Homo sapiens: one gene and its partner. The protein of the gene in region 1 interacts with the protein of each later gene in a biochemical or structural test. Each region holds a gene or a part of one and is shown in the gene's direction. Other genes may lie near its edges.

What was found.
Region 2: the proteins of KIDINS220 (region 1) and SEPTIN5 form a complex in vitro, tested with the Homo sapiens proteins (one study listed by BioGRID).

What each region holds. Positions count from the first base shown.
Region 1 is NC_000002.12:8,785,103-8,793,829, reverse strand, and holds part of KIDINS220 (kinase D-interacting substrate of 220 kDa), read left to right. Parts: coding exon 1-20; intron 21-2,605; coding exon 2,606-2,770; intron 2,771-3,770; coding exon 3,771-3,950; intron 3,951-5,017; coding exon 5,018-5,183; intron 5,184-7,472; coding exon 7,473-7,624; intron 7,625-7,799; coding exon 7,800-8,089; intron 8,090-8,727. UniProt on the Homo sapiens protein: Promotes a prolonged MAP-kinase signaling by neurotrophins through activation of a Rap1-dependent mechanism. Provides a docking site for the CRKL-C3G complex, resulting in Rap1-dependent sustained ERK activation.
Region 2 is NC_000022.11:19,709,023-19,718,280, forward strand, and holds the start of SEPTIN5 (septin-5), read left to right. Parts: upstream 1-5,480; 5' UTR 5,481-5,566; coding exon 5,567-5,609; intron 5,610-5,674; exon of another isoform or gene 5,675-5,758; coding exon 5,759-5,769; exon of another isoform or gene 5,770-5,773; intron 5,774-8,197; exon of another isoform or gene 8,198-9,258. UniProt on the Homo sapiens protein: Filament-forming cytoskeletal GTPase. May play a role in cytokinesis. May play a role in platelet secretion.

The sequences.
Region 1 (8,727 bases):
AACTCAAATATTTGGAGCCAGTAAGTATTGAGTTTTGCTCCTAACTGAGCTTTTAAATAATCAATGTTCCATTAAAGAATATGGAAAATAAGGCCAGGCATGGTGGCTCATGCCTGTAATCCCAGCACTTGAGGAGGCCGAGGTGGGAGGATTGCTTGACCCCAGGAGTTTGAGACAAGCCTGGGCAGTATAGTGAGACCTCATCTCCACAAAAAGATTAAAAAATTAGCTGAGCGTGGTGGTGTGCTTGTAGTCCTAGCTTCTTGGGAGGCTGAGGTGGGAGGATCTCTTGAGCCAGGGAGATGGAGATTGCAGTGAGCCAAGATCACACCACTGCACTGGGTCTCACTCTGTTGCCCAGGCTGGAGTACAGTGATGCAATCATAGCTCACTGCAACCTCAAATTCCTGGGCTTAAGCGATGCTCCCACCTCAGCCTCCTGAGTACTTGGAACTACAGGCCCATGCTACCACACCCAGCTGATTTTTTTTCTTTTTTTGTAGAGACGAGGTCTTGCCATGTTCCCTAGTCTGGGGCTGAGTGATCCTCCCACCTTGGCCTCCCAAAGTGCTGGGATTACAGACATGAGCCACTGTGCCTGGCCATGATTCTATTTTTTTATGACTTTTTGTATTTTAAAATATTTTTTCTTATTATAATAGTAATGTGCACTAATTACATTTCAAGAATGAAAACATGAGTATAGCAGAAAGTGAAAATTCCCCATTACCCCCTATATCCCAACTTGTAATTGTTTAAATGACCCTCCAGGCTTTTCTTTATGCTTATAAAAATGTTACATACTATGTATATAGTTTTAAAAAATAAAAATTGAGTTATAATATGTTACAAAAGCTTAAAGTGTCATATTTTAATTATTGCATAATTTTTCGTACATTGAGTTCGCTATTGGTGAATATTTAGTTTGTTTTGCTAACAACTAGTGCTGCAGTGAACACCTTTGTACGTATATCCATTGACTCTTATTTTTAGGATTTTTTTTCTTTCTTTTGAAAATATTATTAGAGATTCAGGGGGTACAATTAGGATTATTTTCTTAGGGTAAATTCCCAGAAGTAGAATTGCCAAGTCAGTGGATGCCCATAGTTTTGATAGACTTTCCAAAATGGTTGTAAAAATTTCTTCTCCCTCTGGCAGTGTAAGATACCACAATTCCCCACAAGCTTGCTAGCACTGGGTATTTCCAGCCTCTTACTCTTTGCTAATCAGATAAATAAGAAAAGAAAATCTCATTTCAATTTGTGTTTTAAAATTATTAGTGAAATTGAGATCTTGTAATATATTCATAGGCTATTGCTTCTCAGCCTTTTGGCTTAGATAATGTGTAATATGTTCATAGGCTATTTGTATTCTTGCCAGTTTCCTTTTTGTATCCTTTGCCCACTTTTTAGTTTTTAATATTTTAAAAAAATTGATGTAAGAGTCTTTCTGTGTTATGGATATTGATCCTGGGTCTATCCCATGTGCTGCATTCCTCTCCCCCGGCATACTCTTGGTTGATGGTCATGGATTTTTATTCCTCATTCAAAAGTTTTACATTTTTGTAGTTTATTCATTAGTCTTTTCCTGCAGTTCTGGCCTTAGTATTACATTGCAAAAGAAAGGCCTTTTTAAACAAAGATTTTTAAAGTTTTTCCTATATTTCCTTCTAGTACTTCTATGGTTTTACTTTTTTCTACTTAATTTTTTAATGTTTCAGAAAATTTTGTTGAGGCTATGAGGTATATAGCATTTTAATTTAATTTTTTCATGAATGATTAAACTTTCCCAACACCACTTACTAATTCATCCTTTCCTGCCTTATTTGAAATGCCACTTATGTTAATATCCTATATGAGTTCCAGAATGTTCAAATTATTGTTTTACATTTTTATTCTTCTCCAGTGGCAACTACCCTTCAGTAGTCTTTAATTTTTTTTTCTATTCTTACACATTCTTCTTTCCTTTCAATTAAAACAAAATTCTCATGGATTTTAATTAGAACTGCCTTAAAGTGATAGAATAATTTGGGAGAATTGCTGAACCTTTCTTCCTGGAATCATAAAATGTTTCTTTTTCTATTATTATCTATTATGTTCTTCAGTAACATTTTACAACTTTCTTTGTATAGGTATTACACGTACTAAATTTATTTTATATGCTTATTTGTGTTAATCATATTTTATCGATTCTAAAATGCACAATGTTCCCATAATTTAACATCTCTGAAATTGGAATGTGTCTTGTAAGTGATGGACAAGAAAGCATGATGTCACAATTTGGCAACATTTTGTTCTTTCTTAGTTATACATAAAAATGATGTATCATATAATTAATAAGTATCAAGTTCTATGAAATATGATAGTAATTTAAGAATATCTGAAACTTTTTATGAAATACGATAGTAATTTAAGAATCTCTGAATTTTAAATCAGGTAGCCTTCCAAGTCAGAATAGGCTCAGAGACTCCCTGAAACTGTCCCTACATGGGTATAAACATTTGAAATAATTTTTTTCTCTCTAATCAAGGAAACAATGAAAATAGTGTTCATTTCTAATAGTAATGCCACTGTTTAATGTAAGATATGATGTGTTTTAATTACAGGACACTTGTCTCCTACTGAAACAGACGGTGACATGCTTGGATATGATTTATATAGCAGTGCCCTGGCAGATATTCTCAGTGAGCCTACCATGCAGCCACCCATTTGTGTGGGGTTATATGCACAGTGGGGAAGTGGGAAATCTTTCTTACTCAAGAAACTAGAAGGTAAAGGGCTTGCTTGTACAAAGTCTGTATATATAAAGCAAGGTTTTCTCTGGGGATTTTTCTGAAATAAAGAGGAAGACCACTTTCTGTATAAGCATGTGTGTTATGTGGTTTACTGAGATGAACTCCCCTCTGGTTGGTCCTTCACACGGTCATTTGAGTTCTCTTTCTAAAGCAGATCCAATTGTGTGATAACCCCACATAAAACCCTTGCTGGCAAGTTTTTTTCGGGCCCTTCACAGACTTGTCAATTTGCATGGTCCCACCTGCCAGCACCACCTCTGGCATGTGCCCCAGCTTCAGTCACAGAGGACTGTTTGCTCTTGCAAGAACAGACCAGATGTGTTTCCCAGGTTGCTCCCTCTATTAGCAGCTCCTTAGTGGCCTCACTACCACCCACCCAACATGCATGCCTTTTGCTTGGCAAAAGCTTACTTATTCTTCAAGGATAGGTTTCAGTATTGCCTATAAAATTTTCCCCAAGTTTTGTACAAAGAATTACTTGTGTGGGACTCCATTGGGCTCAACATGCACCTTTAAGAACAGTATTCTCAAATGTGATTGGAGGGAGAAGGGATGAGAAGGATCACAGTGGAATGGTGGTGATATGTAGTTTGAAGATATAGGGTATAGTTTTTATTTTTGCATGTGGAAACAATATGCATATGCATAATATTTGTTGTTTGTGTTAATGCAAACCACAAAAAACAAATCTCAAGAAAATCTTGACAGATGGGAGTATATGAGAAGGGGTTTTGTACATCCTCCACGTGAAGCAGGAGAGGGTGGCGAGTCAGGCCTAGCTGTGGTCCTGGGGGTGAGATGTTCATCTTTGGCAAGAGAACACTGGGTAAAATGGTTAAGTGGCAGTATTCCATCTAGGGACCTACTAAGTGTCCAATAAATGTTTACATTGAAAATGTGAAAACTGCATATTGAGTTAAAAGTTGTATTTCTTAAACAAAACAGGAATAAGGTTTCGTATTAAATTCTCTTTCAGACGAAATGAAAACCTTCGCCGGACAACAGATTGAGCCTCTCTTTCAGTTCTCATGGCTCATAGTGTTTCTTACCCTGCTACTTTGTGGAGGGCTTGGTTTATTGTTTGCCTTCACGGTCCACCCAAATCTTGGAATAGCAGTGTCACTGAGCTTCTTGGCTCTCTTATATATATTCTTTAGTAAGTCTTTGCTTTTTATCTTTTTCAAAAATGGAGAAAACGTTAAGATTCATAGATAAAGAAAAAACATTTTCTTTATCTGTCTTTTAAAACCTGTATGTGATTTTCATAATTGGGTGAGAAAATTGATCTTTTTGCTACTCCATAAATTTTCCTAAAGGAACATTGCTCACAACTTGGCTGAAGTAGCTTATAAACTAATGTACTACTTGTTAATCTTGAAGCAAGAACCTATATTATTATACTTACTCTTTTTGTTAATTAATGATTTATATTTAAATCTTTTTCTGGGCCGGGTGCGGTGGCTCTCACGCCTGTAATCCCAGCACTTTGGGAGCCCAAGGCGGGCAGATCGTAAGGTCAGGAGATCGAGACCATCCTGGCTGACATGGTGAAACCCCGTCTCTACTAAATATACAAAAAAATTAGCCGGGCAAGATGGCGGGCGCCTGTAGTCCCAGCTACTCGGGAGGCTGAGGCAGGAGAATGGCGTGAACCTGGGAGGGGGAGGTTGCAGTGAGCCGAGATGGCGCCACTGCTCTCCAGCCTGGGCAACAGAGCGAGACTCCATCTCAAAAAAAAAAAAAAAAAAAAAATTCTTTTTCTGAAAAGAAGGCTTCAAAGCCATCATTGGTATGCTCTTGAGCATTTTGACCATGTCTGTACTTTTAATTTTATCTAAAAGCAAAATAAAAAAAATATAATATAATCCCTATTCTTGGGGGTGTCTTCAGTTGCAAGAAAGGAAATAGATTTACTGTTAGAGGAACTGATAACCAACTTCACCAGTTGCGAATAGTGATAAACCCAAGATGATTTGCATTTGAATCTGAACTGCAGTTATGTTTCTGTTTAAGGCATGTTTTAGTCAGTTTACTTTTCATTTTTCATATCTTCTGTATCTTAGGGGAGGTTAATGGAATTCTTTGAGGAGTAGTTAGGAAATAGTATGGGACCATAGGAAGCTATGTAAGCTTAGCTCTCATTACTTGATACTTGATCTTTGGAGAAAAGATCTGCTTGACTAGTGACTGCTTTGGATAACTTTTTTAAACTGTGAATTTCAGTTGTCATTTACTTTGGTGGACGAAGAGAAGGAGAGAGTTGGAATTGGGCCTGGGTCCTCAGCACTAGATTGGCAAGACATATTGGATATTTGGAACTCCTCCTTAAATTGATGTTTGTGAATCCACCTGAGTTGCCAGAGCAGACTACTAAAGCTTTACCTGTGAGGTGAGTTGTACCATTTGACAGAAGAAATCTTCAATGAGATTCAGAAAAAAATATTTTTCACTTCGGAAAGTTTATAGGAGCCGGGTGTGGTGGCTCACGCTTGTAATCCCAGCACTTTGGGAGGCCAAGGTGGGCAGATCACCTGAGGTCAGGAGTTCGAGACCAGCCTGGCCAACATGGTGAAACCCCATCTCTACTAAAAATACAAAATTAGCGGGGGCGTCATGGCGCATGCCTGTAGTCCTAGCTACTTGGAAGGATGAAGCAGGAGAATCGCTTGAACCTGGGAGGCAGAGGTTGCAGTGAGCCAGGATCGCGCCATTGCACTCCAGCCTGGGCGACAAGAACGAAACTCTGTCTCAAAAAAAAAAAAAAGTTTATAGAATATAATTTCTCAATGTATGTTCCAAAAAACATTGGAACCTTTTACATACAGAAATAAAAACATGCCCTGGTCAAATACCGTGGGAAACACTTCAGATTATATATCCCTCCTGTACGTTAAAGGATCAGAGGCACCTTTCCATAAAGAAACCTGTTTAACTTTTATTTACCAAATTTTATTTAAGCATAAACCTTTTCTCCCTGTTATGTCACCTGTTACCATCTTTTGGAACACACTTTGAAGAGAGCACTGGATGGAGGAGGGGTCCAGCCACTGGCCTTGGTCCCCAGAGAGCTTCCCGCTGGAGACCTGGCCCTTCCTTATGTGAGCGGTTAACCTGGGGAAACCCAGCTCCCCTCTCTGAGCTGTGCTTTTCTCAGCTCAGGAAATATATTCACATGTCTGTCTAAAATTATTATTCATATTAAGTAGGAAATTTATGAGAAAAAAGAAAAGATGAAAAATGTTTAAGTCCAGGAATAAAGGAAAGGTAGAGGGCTCCAGAGGACAGTGAAATGAAAAAAAAAAAAAGCTAGAAAGTTAAAAGCAAAAGAAATTCAATGGAAGTAAGCAATGTAAGAATTTAAAATGTATTAAGCCAGATGTGGTGGCTCACACCTGTAATCCCAGCACTGTGGGAGGCCAAAGTGGTCAATTGCTTGAGCTCAGGAGTTCAAAACAAGCCTGGGTAAAGGCAAAACCCCATCTCTACAAAAAATAGAAAAATTAGCTGGGTGTGGTGGTGCGTGCCTGTAGTTCTAGCTGCTTGGGAGGCTGAAGTGGGAGGACTGCTTAAGCTTCGGGGGTTGAGGGTACAGTGAGCCAAGATCACGCCACCGCACTGCAGCCTAGGTGACAAAGTGAGACCCTGCTCAAAAAAAAAAAGCATTAAAAGATGAAAATTTTTTAGTTATAAGAAAAAATAAGTGTAATTTAAGATGAAAATAAATAAGCCAAACCAGGTAAAATATTAAAACTGAGTATAAGAGAAAAATAAAGGTAAAAACTTTTAAGTAACTAGCATAGAGAATTAAGTATTAAGAAAAGGATTTAAAAGTGAAAAAGTTAAAAGGAAAACAGAATAAAATAATTGGGGGAATATTTTTACAGAAAATAAGGAAACCAGTCTAAATTAATGAGGTGGTATTTTTTTTTTTCAGTTAGAACAATTAAAGTAGCATCGTCAAGACCACACAGTATATTACAGATTGTATTCTGAGAGCAATGCTTATCTACTGGACTGAGATGAGAGTTTAATTTAGAGATGGAAGGGAGAAAGGAACTAACAGAAATAATAATGATTCAGAGACTCTGAATACAAATAATTCACTTAATTTTGAAGATCAATTGTGAAGAGAATATTTTACAACTATTTCTCAATCCCTGGTAGACGTGGAAGCTATAAATAAAATAAGCCATGCTAAAACTTGAGTTTTTAAATGGTATTACTGGGCTTGAAATTCTTTAATGACTGTAATTAATATTTTTTCAGGGTTAGAGTCTCTTTCGTTGGTGTTAGAAAACTTTCTTGTGCAACTCTTGGTGGCCACATCATGACACGTGTGTCACCTTTTAACCACTATGTCGTGAGATCTGTTGGGGTGTCTTGATACTCCACATCTAAGTTCTGGCGTAACTTTCCCCCGCCTGTCCTTAGTCAGAATTACTTTATATGGCCCTGCACATTTCACTTTTGTTACTGTTTTTTCCTAAGAAAAGTATGTAAGATTTTAGAAGTGGAAGCTACCTAATTACAAATTCTTTTCCCTCCTTGGAATTTAAAAAACAATATTTTGAAAGAGACAAAAAGAAAATAAAGGGTAAGTGATGCAAAGATGACATACATTGAAGTTATTTGTTACTTTAGATAATAAAGTAATGTTTGATTTGTTCTTTTCTTCAAGGTTTTTGTTTACAGATTACAATAGACTGTCCAGTGTAGGTGGAGAAACTTCTCTGGCTGAAATGATTGCAACCCTCTCGGATGCTTGTGAAAGAGAGTTTGGCTTTTTGGCAACCAGGCTTTTTCGAGTATTCAAGACTGAAGATACTCAGGGTAGGATTTCCTTCCTTCCTTCTTTGTGTGTAAGGGATGGGGGTGGGATAGATGTTCAGTTTATTTTCATGAAAACACACCTTGAACATTAGACTCATCAGGTATTGTGACTATAATGTTAGGATTTTCTAGATCCTTGATATGTTAATTATTAAAACCATTTGTTGCATTACAGGTAAAAAGAAATGGAAAAAAACATGTTGTCTCCCATCTTTTGTCATCTTCCTTTTTATCATTGGCTGCATTATATCTGGAATTACTCTTCTGGCTATATTTAGAGTTGACCCAAAGCATCTGACTGTAAATGCTGTCCTCATATCAATCGCATCTGTAGTGGGATTGGCCTTTGTGTTGAACTGTCGTACATGGTGGCAAGTGCTGGACTCGCTCCTGAATTCCCAAAGAAAACGCCTCCATAATGCAGCCTCCAAACTGCACAAATTGAAAAGTGAAGGATTCATGAAAGTAAGCACTCATTGGTTATTAGAAAAAATTGTAATGCGAATATGTTGCCACTGCCATGCTCATTTGGGCTTTAGGAAGTACACTCTCTAAATGTTAAAGTGTTGCATTTATTTTAGTTTAATTTGTTCATTCATTCATTCGTTCATTCAAGACTATAATTTAAGGTAGTTTTAAGTTCACGGTAAAATTTAGAGGGAAGTGCAAAGATATCCCATATACCCACTTCCCCCACACATACACAGCCTCCCCAATTGGCACGATTACCCACCAGAGCAGTACATTTGTTACAATTGATGAACTTAGGCTGACACATCATAATCACCCAGCATCCATAGTTTACAGTAGGGTTCACTCTTGGTGTGGTACATTCTGTGGGCTTGGACAAATGTATAACATGTATCCACCATTATAGTCTTATACAGAGTAGATTTATTGCCCTCAAAATCTTCTGTGCTTCACCTCTTCACACCTGTTCACCCCTCCCTCCACCCTCCTCCCTAACCCCTGGCTACCATTTCTTTTTACTATCGCCATAGTTTTGCCCTTTCCAGAATGTCATATAGTTGAATCATACATGTGTAGTCTTTTCAGATTGGCTTCTTTCACGTAGTCATATGCATTTAAGTGCCCTTCATGTC
Region 2 (9,258 bases), on another chromosome or scaffold:
GATTTTCAGATCTCTCTTGCCTGACTGGGAGGTAGATGCAGTGGGGAGCTGGAGCCAGTCCCTGGAGCCCAGCGCTGAGCTCTTTGTGATGGAGGGGTGGGGTGAGCCGCAGGATCTAGGTCACCGTGCTCTGGCCCTGCTCTCTGCCTTTCGCAAGCGCTTGCTCCCGTGGGATGTTTGTCATGCTTCCATGCATGACACAGGAGAATATCAACATTGGTGCCATTTCACATCTCTTCATTCATCTGCTATTCTTCCACCTTCAGCTTCTCATAAAATCACAGAACTGCAGTGAGGACCTCTGCCTGCCGGGACAGCCTGGGGATGGTCCCGTGCAGCCCCCTCAGGCAGCATCCCTGTGGAGGGTTCCCCTCCGCCCCCTACCGTGGGGAGCTCTTCCCAGCTGAGTCACACTGCACGCCTGGTCCCTACCCTGGGCTGCTCTCTGTGTTATCTTGCAGGCGCCGTCCCAGATCCTTCAGGGGACTCTGAAGGCCCATCAGATGTGGCTGCAGACCCACCTCCCTCAGACCCTCAGCTCTGGATCCAGGCTGGCTCCCTGCCGTGGAGCACAGGCGCCCTTTGTAGCACTCACTCCAGCTGCCCAGGGAATCGGGGACTTGGTGTGGACTGAGACTCAGCCCCCTTGAAGCCCTATTCTGTCCACCGCTGCAAGACATAGGCGGCTTTAAGCAGGACCAGGCCGCACCCTCCAGGCAGAGACAGCTGCTGTGGGTTCTGTGCTCTTCTAATGGGCATGTCTTCCCATCGGTGATGAGGACTGATTTGTGCAGTGACCCCCTTACATTTTTCTGAAAAGGAGATCAAGGAAAACATTCTTCAGTAGAATCCTCACTGTGCACACACTTCCCCTTGTGCTCGGTGACAGCCACTGCCTTTGGGAGCAGGGAGGACGCCCCAGAACCTCCTGGTCTCCGCACACCCCCCTGAGCTGGGCTGAGCACACAAGCACCCCTCTGCAGACAGTAGAGGTTTTGGGATTCAGAATATGCAGTCTGAAGCTCCCCAGAGCCTGGCTCTTTAGTCAGGCCCTCCTTGCCCGCCCTGTGAATCCACGCCTAGGAGCCTGTGCCCCCACCCAGCAGGAGCTGATGCTGCTGAGCTTCCCAGGTGCCAGACAGGGGCTGAGTGTGGGGGCCAGGGAGCCAGTCGGGAGTCTGCTGCCTGGCAGGCCATGTCCTGCAGAAGAGAGGCCAGCATAGGGCACGGTGGGCCTGGAGGGGCTGGAGACAGTGCTGCTGGGTCGGCAGAGCTAGAGAAGGGCAGCCCAGGCAGGGGGCACACTAGTGCCAAGGTGCAGGGGCATGAAGCTGCAGGTCACACGGCCTCCCTCGGAGCCCCCAGGTACTGGGGGTGGGTTCAAATCTCACAGGGTTGGCGGGCGAGGGCTTCAGGAACAGCAGGGACAGGAGCATGAGAGCAGTAGAAAAATGCAGGGGTCAGGAGGATCATCTGGGACCCACCAGGTTGCTGGTGAATTCAGGGGATAGAAGGGATGTGAGCTCAGGCCTCGAGCAGCTGCCTGATTGGGACAGCCCCTGGCTGGGCCGCGACCAGGTCACAGCACTTTGCAGGAGTCAGGCCTGGGCTCCACGGTCGTGGGTTCTAGTCTCGGCTGTTTAGTCTCAAGCAGATCTCCACCGCGCCCTGACCTCCACTTCCTGCGTCTACTCAGGGTGAAAAAACACCCCATTCCCAGCACAGGTCAGGGTTGCCCGAGTTGATCATGCAGGTAGGCCTGTGGGGCTCTCAGGTGCCTGACACCCTGCATGCATCTTGGCCTCTTCCCTCATCCTCAGCCTCAGATGGACTGAGCCATCTGGAACCTGTCAGTGGTGGCCTCAGCCCTAACTGCAGATGACAGGCTTGGGAGTGTGGCGACATGTGTCACCTGGAGCAAACTGCTCCCCCTCTGAAGCCTGTCACCCACAAGACCTGCTCCCAAGGGCCAATGGCAGGTGCCTTATTCTTTCGTCGCCATCACCGTTGCCACCTCCCCACCAGCTCCATCCTTCTCCGGGTCCCAGCCCTGGGGCGCTCACTCCCCTGTGTGCTGAGGGAGGCCCAGCATGGTTCAAATGCAGCCTCTGGAGAATTTCTTCACTAAGAGGCTTTTTCTGAAAAGAGTCAAGCTATTTGTAGCCCAAGTTGGTTGAACAGATTTTTCTTGGTGTAGCTTATTTTTTTATTCATTAACTTCTTTTCCTTATGAATTAAAAAATAGCATTTTTTTTTCCACAAAGGAGTGCTTTATTTACTTCTTTTTGTACCACAGCCAGCGCTTCCTCTGCCTGCTGGGGAAAGTGGATGCACACACCCACTTTGGCAGGCAGTTTTCTTTCAAGCCATGGCATCTTGGAGAGGTAAGTGTGTGTGTTCAGACCACTGCCCTGTGGCTCCAGCCCCCCTGATATCAGCCACAGCCCCAAGGCTTGGGTGTTGTTTGTTTGTTTTTTCATTTTTTTTGAGACAAGGTCTCACTCTGTTGCCCAGGCTGGAGTGCAGTGGCACCATCACGGCTCACTGCATGCAGCCTCAAACTCCCAGGCTCAAGTGAGCCTCTGGCCTCAGCCTCCTGAGTAGCTGAGACTACAGACTCATGCCACCACAGCCAGTTTTTTTTTTTTAATTTTTAATTTTTATAGAAACGGGGTCTCACATTCTTGCCCAGACTGGTCTCAAACTCTTGGCCTCAAGTCATCCTCCCACCTTGGCCACCGAAAGTGCTACAATGATAGGCGTGAGCCACCAGGCCTGCCTGGTTGGCTTTTTGGTGAACAGGAGCATAATAAGGGTTTCACTGGGCTGTCAGCCTCCATTGTGGTGGCCAGTATCTCAAAGCCTCACCTGGCAGAACTGGAGACGCGTCTGCTGACCGATGCCCTCATGACCCATTTTCCTGACTTCAGAAATGTCCCATGCAGACACTATGCCATCCAGCAGGCCTCCCAGCTAGACAGGGTGCAGCCTCGATGTGTCTGTGGAGGGACTCGGGCTGTCCCTGCACTCACAGTCATGGTGACCAAAGTCCCAGAGTAAGGGAGCAGATGCCGCTTCCCCCTTCCAGCCCAGGCATTTTACATGAGGCGCTGACCCAGGACCACCCTTGACTTCACTCTTCCAAGGAGTGGCTCCCAGTCCTATATATTCCATCAGCCTCCAGGCTGGCTGTCCCTTAAACACTGGTCTCCAATCTAACTGCATTTCTGTAAGTAATCTTTTGGGACAGACTTTTTTAAAAAAGATCATGTTTATGCCGTATTCCTCATCTTTCTTGTCTTCTATCTCCAGATTTGTTTTAAAACCTATTACTCCTGTATACATGTGCCTCCCACCCTTTGAGCTATGCCCTTGACCTGCTATGCACTTGTCTCAAGGCCAAGTTCAAACCCCCTAACCCAAGGCTGTCCAGAGCTGCCCTGCCACCTGAGCCATGGGGAGGGGCGCTGAGCTGGTGCCTTTCACAGGCTGCCTGCCTCCCCCTGGGCAGGGCTCCTGTCTCTCCTCCTTTGTCTCCACAAGCACAGGCTTGCATGGGTCAGCACGTGGTGAACAGCCAACCATCATTTTCCAATTCTTTCCAAAAAGTCCTGTCTATGCTCAGAAGTCCTGCCTGGCCCTTTGAGTGCCCCTACCCCCACACACACATTCTTTTTTTTTTTTTTTTTTTTTTTTTTTTGAGACGGAGTCTGGCTCTTTGGCTCAGGCTGGAGTGGAGTGCAGTGGTGCGATCTCGGCTCACTGCAACCTCCGCCTTCTGAGTTCAAGTGATTCTCCTGCCTCAGTCTCCTGAATAGCTGGGACTACAGGCATGTGCCACCATGCCTAGCTAATTTTTTGTATTTTTAATAGACGGGGTTTCACCGTGTTAGCCAGGATGGTCTTGATCTCCTGACCTCAACACACATTTCTTTATCGAAATTCCAAATTCTCCAAAGCTCAGAAACATAAAGGTTTTTCAAAACTCAGTGGCAAAGCTGGACCTGAACGATGCGCCATCACTTACTGTCTTTATTTCTTCCAGTTCACCTGAATACATATGTTTTGCCCCGAAAATATAAATGGGTCTGATTATGAGGAGCAGCCCCAGGTTCCAAAGAGGTGCCACATAATGTATGATGTATACAAAAAAGCCTGAGTTCCAAACACATCTTGGATGAGAGGTTGGGACTGTGGGGGATCCCTACACTGGTTAGAGTTCTAGACCCAGAGCAGGGTTATGGTCAACGGCGCTCTGGCCACAGAATGCAGCAGAGCAAGGACTGTGGAACAAAGACGCGGCTTACATGAATTTTTCACTTACCGTGCTGGGTGCTGGTGATTCAGAGATGGAAAGGCCCTAGCGACACCCCCCTCCACCCAGGGAGCCCACGGGCCAGCAGAGGGACCAAGGGGCACAGGACGGGTGGGGAGCAGAGGCGGATTCCCTGGCTGTGGAGGTACTGTCTATACGGGGTGCAGGAGACATCTCCATACAAGGGGGCCCTCACCTGGGGAGGTGGTGACCGCAAGCCTGACAGCCCCAAAGCCTTCAGAGATGCCGCCTGGGGACACTTTGGGAAAGTCCAGGCGGAGGACACCTGGGAATGTGATAGTGACACAAATGACCGGAGAGACTTGCTCTCAGTCACTGAGTCTGGCTGACTCACTGAAGATTAGGGCCTGAACTTCCCCCTCTGTAAATGGGGTGCAGGCCCTGGCCCTGCCTTCACAGTGCCCCTCGGTCCCCTACAAGCCTTCTCCGCAGGGTGGGATCGGGTCTGCCTGGAGCATCCCCACAGCCTATGGGTCAGCAGAGAAGCAGGCGCAGAGCTGGGGTGAGACGGTCAGGGCCGGTCCTGCCAGACACCTCAGATCACTCCTCTTCACAAATAATCCCATTTTACAGCCCAGGAAGAGAGAGGCCGGACCACTGCCCAAAAGCCTGTGGCCTACAGCCTGCCAGGTGCGTCTGCTCGCAGAGCAGGTCTGCGCAGCACCGAGCGGTCAGCAGGGGCAATGCTGGGCACTGGCCAGCCGCGCCAGGACCATCCCTGCTGACCTCGGCGGGGTGGGGCGGAGCGTGCAGGGTCTGGCCCGGAAAGCCAGGGCAGGCTTTAGAGAAGGGCCACCGGACGGATGGTCCGAGGACCGGCATGGACCCGGGTCCCAGCGAGGGCGGGGGGAGCGTAAGGCTGGGCCTGGGCTGCGGCACCGGGGAGGTGGCGGGGAGGAGGCCGGCAGGAACAGCCGTGCAGGGCGGGGGCGGCGCGGGTCTGGTCGGGTGACCCCGGGCGCGGCCAGGGCTGTAGGAGGCGAGGGCGTCGCCCCGAGGCCGTGGTCTCGGGTCCATGGTGGGGGACCTGGGTCCCCGCCCCCCCGGGCCGCCCTGGGTCGCGCGTGGGCGCGGCGGGCGCCGATTGGCTGCCGGGCGCGCGGGCGGAGCGGGCGGCGGCGGCGGCGGCGCGGAGGGGCCGCTCACCCCGCAGCCCGGCCTCGGCCTCCGCCGCTTGTCGTCGCGCCCCGCCCGCGAGCCCGCCCCGCACGTCCCCCGCCGGCGGCCACCATGAGCACAGGCCTGCGGTACAAGAGCAAGCTGGCGACCCCAGGTGAGCCCAGCGCCTGCCCGCGTGCCCGCGCGCGCCTTTGTCCCCGCCGCCCGCGCGCCTCTCACCGTGTCTCTCCGTCTCTCCCCCGCCCGCCGGCCCGGACCCGCTCGGAACCGGACCCGGACTCGACCCCGACCCCGACCCCGCAGAGGACAAGCAGGTACGTGCGCAGCGCCGCTCCCCCGCCGGGAGACCCGGCCGGCTGTCACCCATTGTGACACTAGCGCCTTGGGCGCCCAGGCGCGACCCCGCCCCCGCCGGCCCTCACCCAGCCCTGTCGCGATCACCGATTGTCAGCCGGGCAGTGCCGCCGCGCCTGGGGCTTCAGAGGAGAGGAGTGGGGGCCCTGGTCCCCGGACCCGCACAGCAGGGACCCTGCGCCCCTCCCCAGGATGGGGGGATGGGCAGAGTGTCCCCCTCCCACAGGGCCAGTGCCAGCATCTCCTGCTGACCTGGCCTGTAGGCCATGAGCTGGGGGTCCTGGGTGAGGCCATGGTCGTGGCAGGCCACGCTGGGGGAGGGGAGTCAGGCTCCATCAGCCAGCACAGTCCCTGAACAGCCCTACAGCAGAGGGCCTGTGGTCACCACCCACCTCCCCTGCACCTTCATGCCCCTTTCCCTCCCCATACACAAATTTGAGTGTTCAGGTCTGCAACAGGGACTCTTCCCCAGATTGGGAACCCCCAGGGTCTGGTCTGAGTCATTCTGGGTGCCCAGATGGGTCCTGGGACCCTGTGGGTACAAATAGGCTTGTGGCTTCTCAAAAGGGTTGGCCCCACCCTCCAGGAAAGCAAGACTGGACAGGAGGCTGGTCTAGGCACCTGGGTGAAACCCAGCCGAGCTCAGGGTTAAACAATGCTGTGAGGCCCCTGGGGTGGGGCGGGGGCTGACAACCAGGTGGGCTGGGGGGGCTGGGGAAAGCCTGCTGGTGTCCTCTCTGGCTTGAGCTCAGCCATCTTTGGAGGAAAAAAGAAGAGCCCAATTCTGGCACCAGGGTGGCACTGGCAGCCCCCATCAGGGATGGAGTTTCTCAGGAGCCATGGATGCTGAGTGGAACTCCAGAGTCCTGGCCCAGGGTGCAGCAGGCAGGGCAGGAGGGCGGGCAGGGGGGCCAGGAGCTGGGGGAGTCACTGGCTGACCAGTGCCATTCTCCTGGAAGGGACACACCCCACCCAGAGGTGGATGAGGCTCTCTGGGAGGGGCCCCTTGGGGAGCCAGGCTGGGAGCTGCCTCCCCATCACAGCAGGTCAGACAAAGCCTGAGATGCAGGGACACATGCGTCAGGCTACTGTTTGAGGGAAATGGAAGGAACTGAGGCTGGGAAAGCCAGGAGGCCAGGCCCCTGAGGCTTCTCCTGTGCCTGCAGGTGTCCCCAGCTTGACCCAAGGGCACTCTGAGACCCTGGGCTCCAGCCACTGCTGTTGGGTGCAGCCAGGTTCTCTTGCCCATTACTGCAGGGTGGGGACCCCCTCCTGCTGAGGTGCCCATCGTTTGAGGTCAACCGGGAGTCCACCTCACCCCATCCCAGGCCTCCCAGGCCTCCAAGCCCAGAGGAAGAAGGCACTGTGTGGCCAAGGAAGGGAGCCCCGGAGCAGGAGCCAGGCCAGGTGTCTGGGTGACCAGTGGGTCTGGGGGAGCTGGAAGCACATGGCAGCTTCCCTGCTACCACCGTTGCTGAGCCTCAGCCTGTCCAAGCATTCTTTTTGCTCTTTGAAAGGGGGCTGTAGAGGCATTGGGGGAGTTCCGTCACTACGCTCTGTGCCCCCACCTCCTCACAGGCAGCACCGGTGATCTCTTGGCCCTGGCTGCTGCTCCCAGAGCTGACTCGGGTGATTCTAAGAATGGAAGTGCCAGAGAGGCTCAGGCATTGGGAGGAGATGGGCGCAGCTGTGTCATATGGCTCAGGAAGCCCTGGGAGTATCTTTTGTCACTTGGGGACCAGAGAAAGGGGGTGGCAGGTACGGCCCCTTCCTTGAGGCTCCCCCAGGGAATCCACAGGCCCTGACTGGGCCCCAGTGGGTGGCAGGGCAGGTGGGTTGAACGCTGAGAGTGAGATTCTTGCCCTCCTGACCTGGGCCTCCCCAGAGGCTGTGCCTTACCAATGGGGAAACTGAGGCAGGCAGTCTGAGAGCCACACACTCTGTTAGACACCTCCTAGCCTGAGGCCTAGGCCCAGGGCTGTCTGTCTTCCTGGAGATGCCCTGGGCCTGAGATGCCAGCCTGTCTGGGTGGGTGCTGGGCTTCGAGGTGTGGACCCTCAGTTGGAAACTGGGTGGGACTCAGCCTAGAGGCTTCCTGCAGGTCAGGGCCATGGAAGGCTGGGGCCAGTGAGGAGGCTTTCTGGCAGCAAGGACTGAGGGATGCACTGGTAGAGCTGGGGGGCCTGGAGCTGCCCCCTTTCCCTGGGATGAAAGGCTCTCCTGTTCCCAGCTGTGGGCCTGCCCCTCCTCCCCAGGTGCCAGTGGTCCAGGCCCCACAACAGGACCAGGGCCTGGACAGGAAGTGGAGGAGGTCTCTCAGCCAGGAGAGCCTAAGGGAGGGCTGGTGGCGGGTGGGGTGGGGTGGGGTTGGGGCCTCCAGCTTCTAATGTTCTAATGTGCAGGGGCTTGGCCTGACCAGTCCTACCCTGGAACCTTTCCAGGCCCCATGTCCTGCTCCGCTGGGCTTGCCTGTTGGGATTCTACTGGGGTCATGGAGGTGGGTGGCCCACAGAGCGGAGCTCGGGAGACCCCCGCAGTCCCTGGAGTAGCCACATGGGAGGGAGGCCCGGCTGGCAGGAGCTCCCAGTCCCTCCAATCCTGTGGGTCAGAGCTGGTGAGGATGCTCAGAGGGCAAGGGAATGTCCACAGAAGCACGTGGGAGATGGGTCCCATCCCACCCCCACCCCTGTCTCTGAGGGCAGGGCCACCTGAGGGCTGCAGGGCAGCGCATGGGTGGCCGGCGTTTATTCAGCAGGCTGGCGGGGGCTTCCAAGTTTTGCAGGGACCTCCAGTACTCCGGCAGCCTGCACCCTTCCTTTCCCTTCCCTTCCCTTCTGTCCACCCTAAGCCTCCTAGGGGACAGGCAGGCTGGACTTCAGAAAAGGTGGGCTCTGCCCTCCTCCGGTCCCCCGAATGTCTTGGGAAAGAGTCCACCAAACACACATGCACACACCCGCGCACACGCACATACCCAATGCATGCACACACGTACACACACACGCATACACGCATGTATACACGCGCACACACGCAGGCATTACACACACACACATTACACACACACACCCGCACGGACGCGCACACACAAACGCGCGCACGCACGCACGCACGCACGGGGGAGGTCAGCCCCAAGCAGGGCTGGGGAGGGGTGCAGGGCGCGGCGTGTCTGTGGGCACTTGGGGCGTCGAGACGCCGCCGGGAGGTTTTCGGGCAAGTCTGCGAGAAGACGGCGGGCCCTGAACTGGGCGGGTACCCGCGCTGTTGCGCGTGGGTCCCGGGAGCGGCCTCCGGCGCCCTCTGGCGGGCGGAAGCCGCGCAGCACCTCTTGGGGGCGGGACGCGCGGTGGCTACCGACTCCCGGCCCGCCCCGGCCCGCGTGCAGGACCCGGTCGTCCCCTCCTGCTGTCCTGGAGCCCGGACTGAGGCCCCGGGGGCGCGGCAGGGCTCCC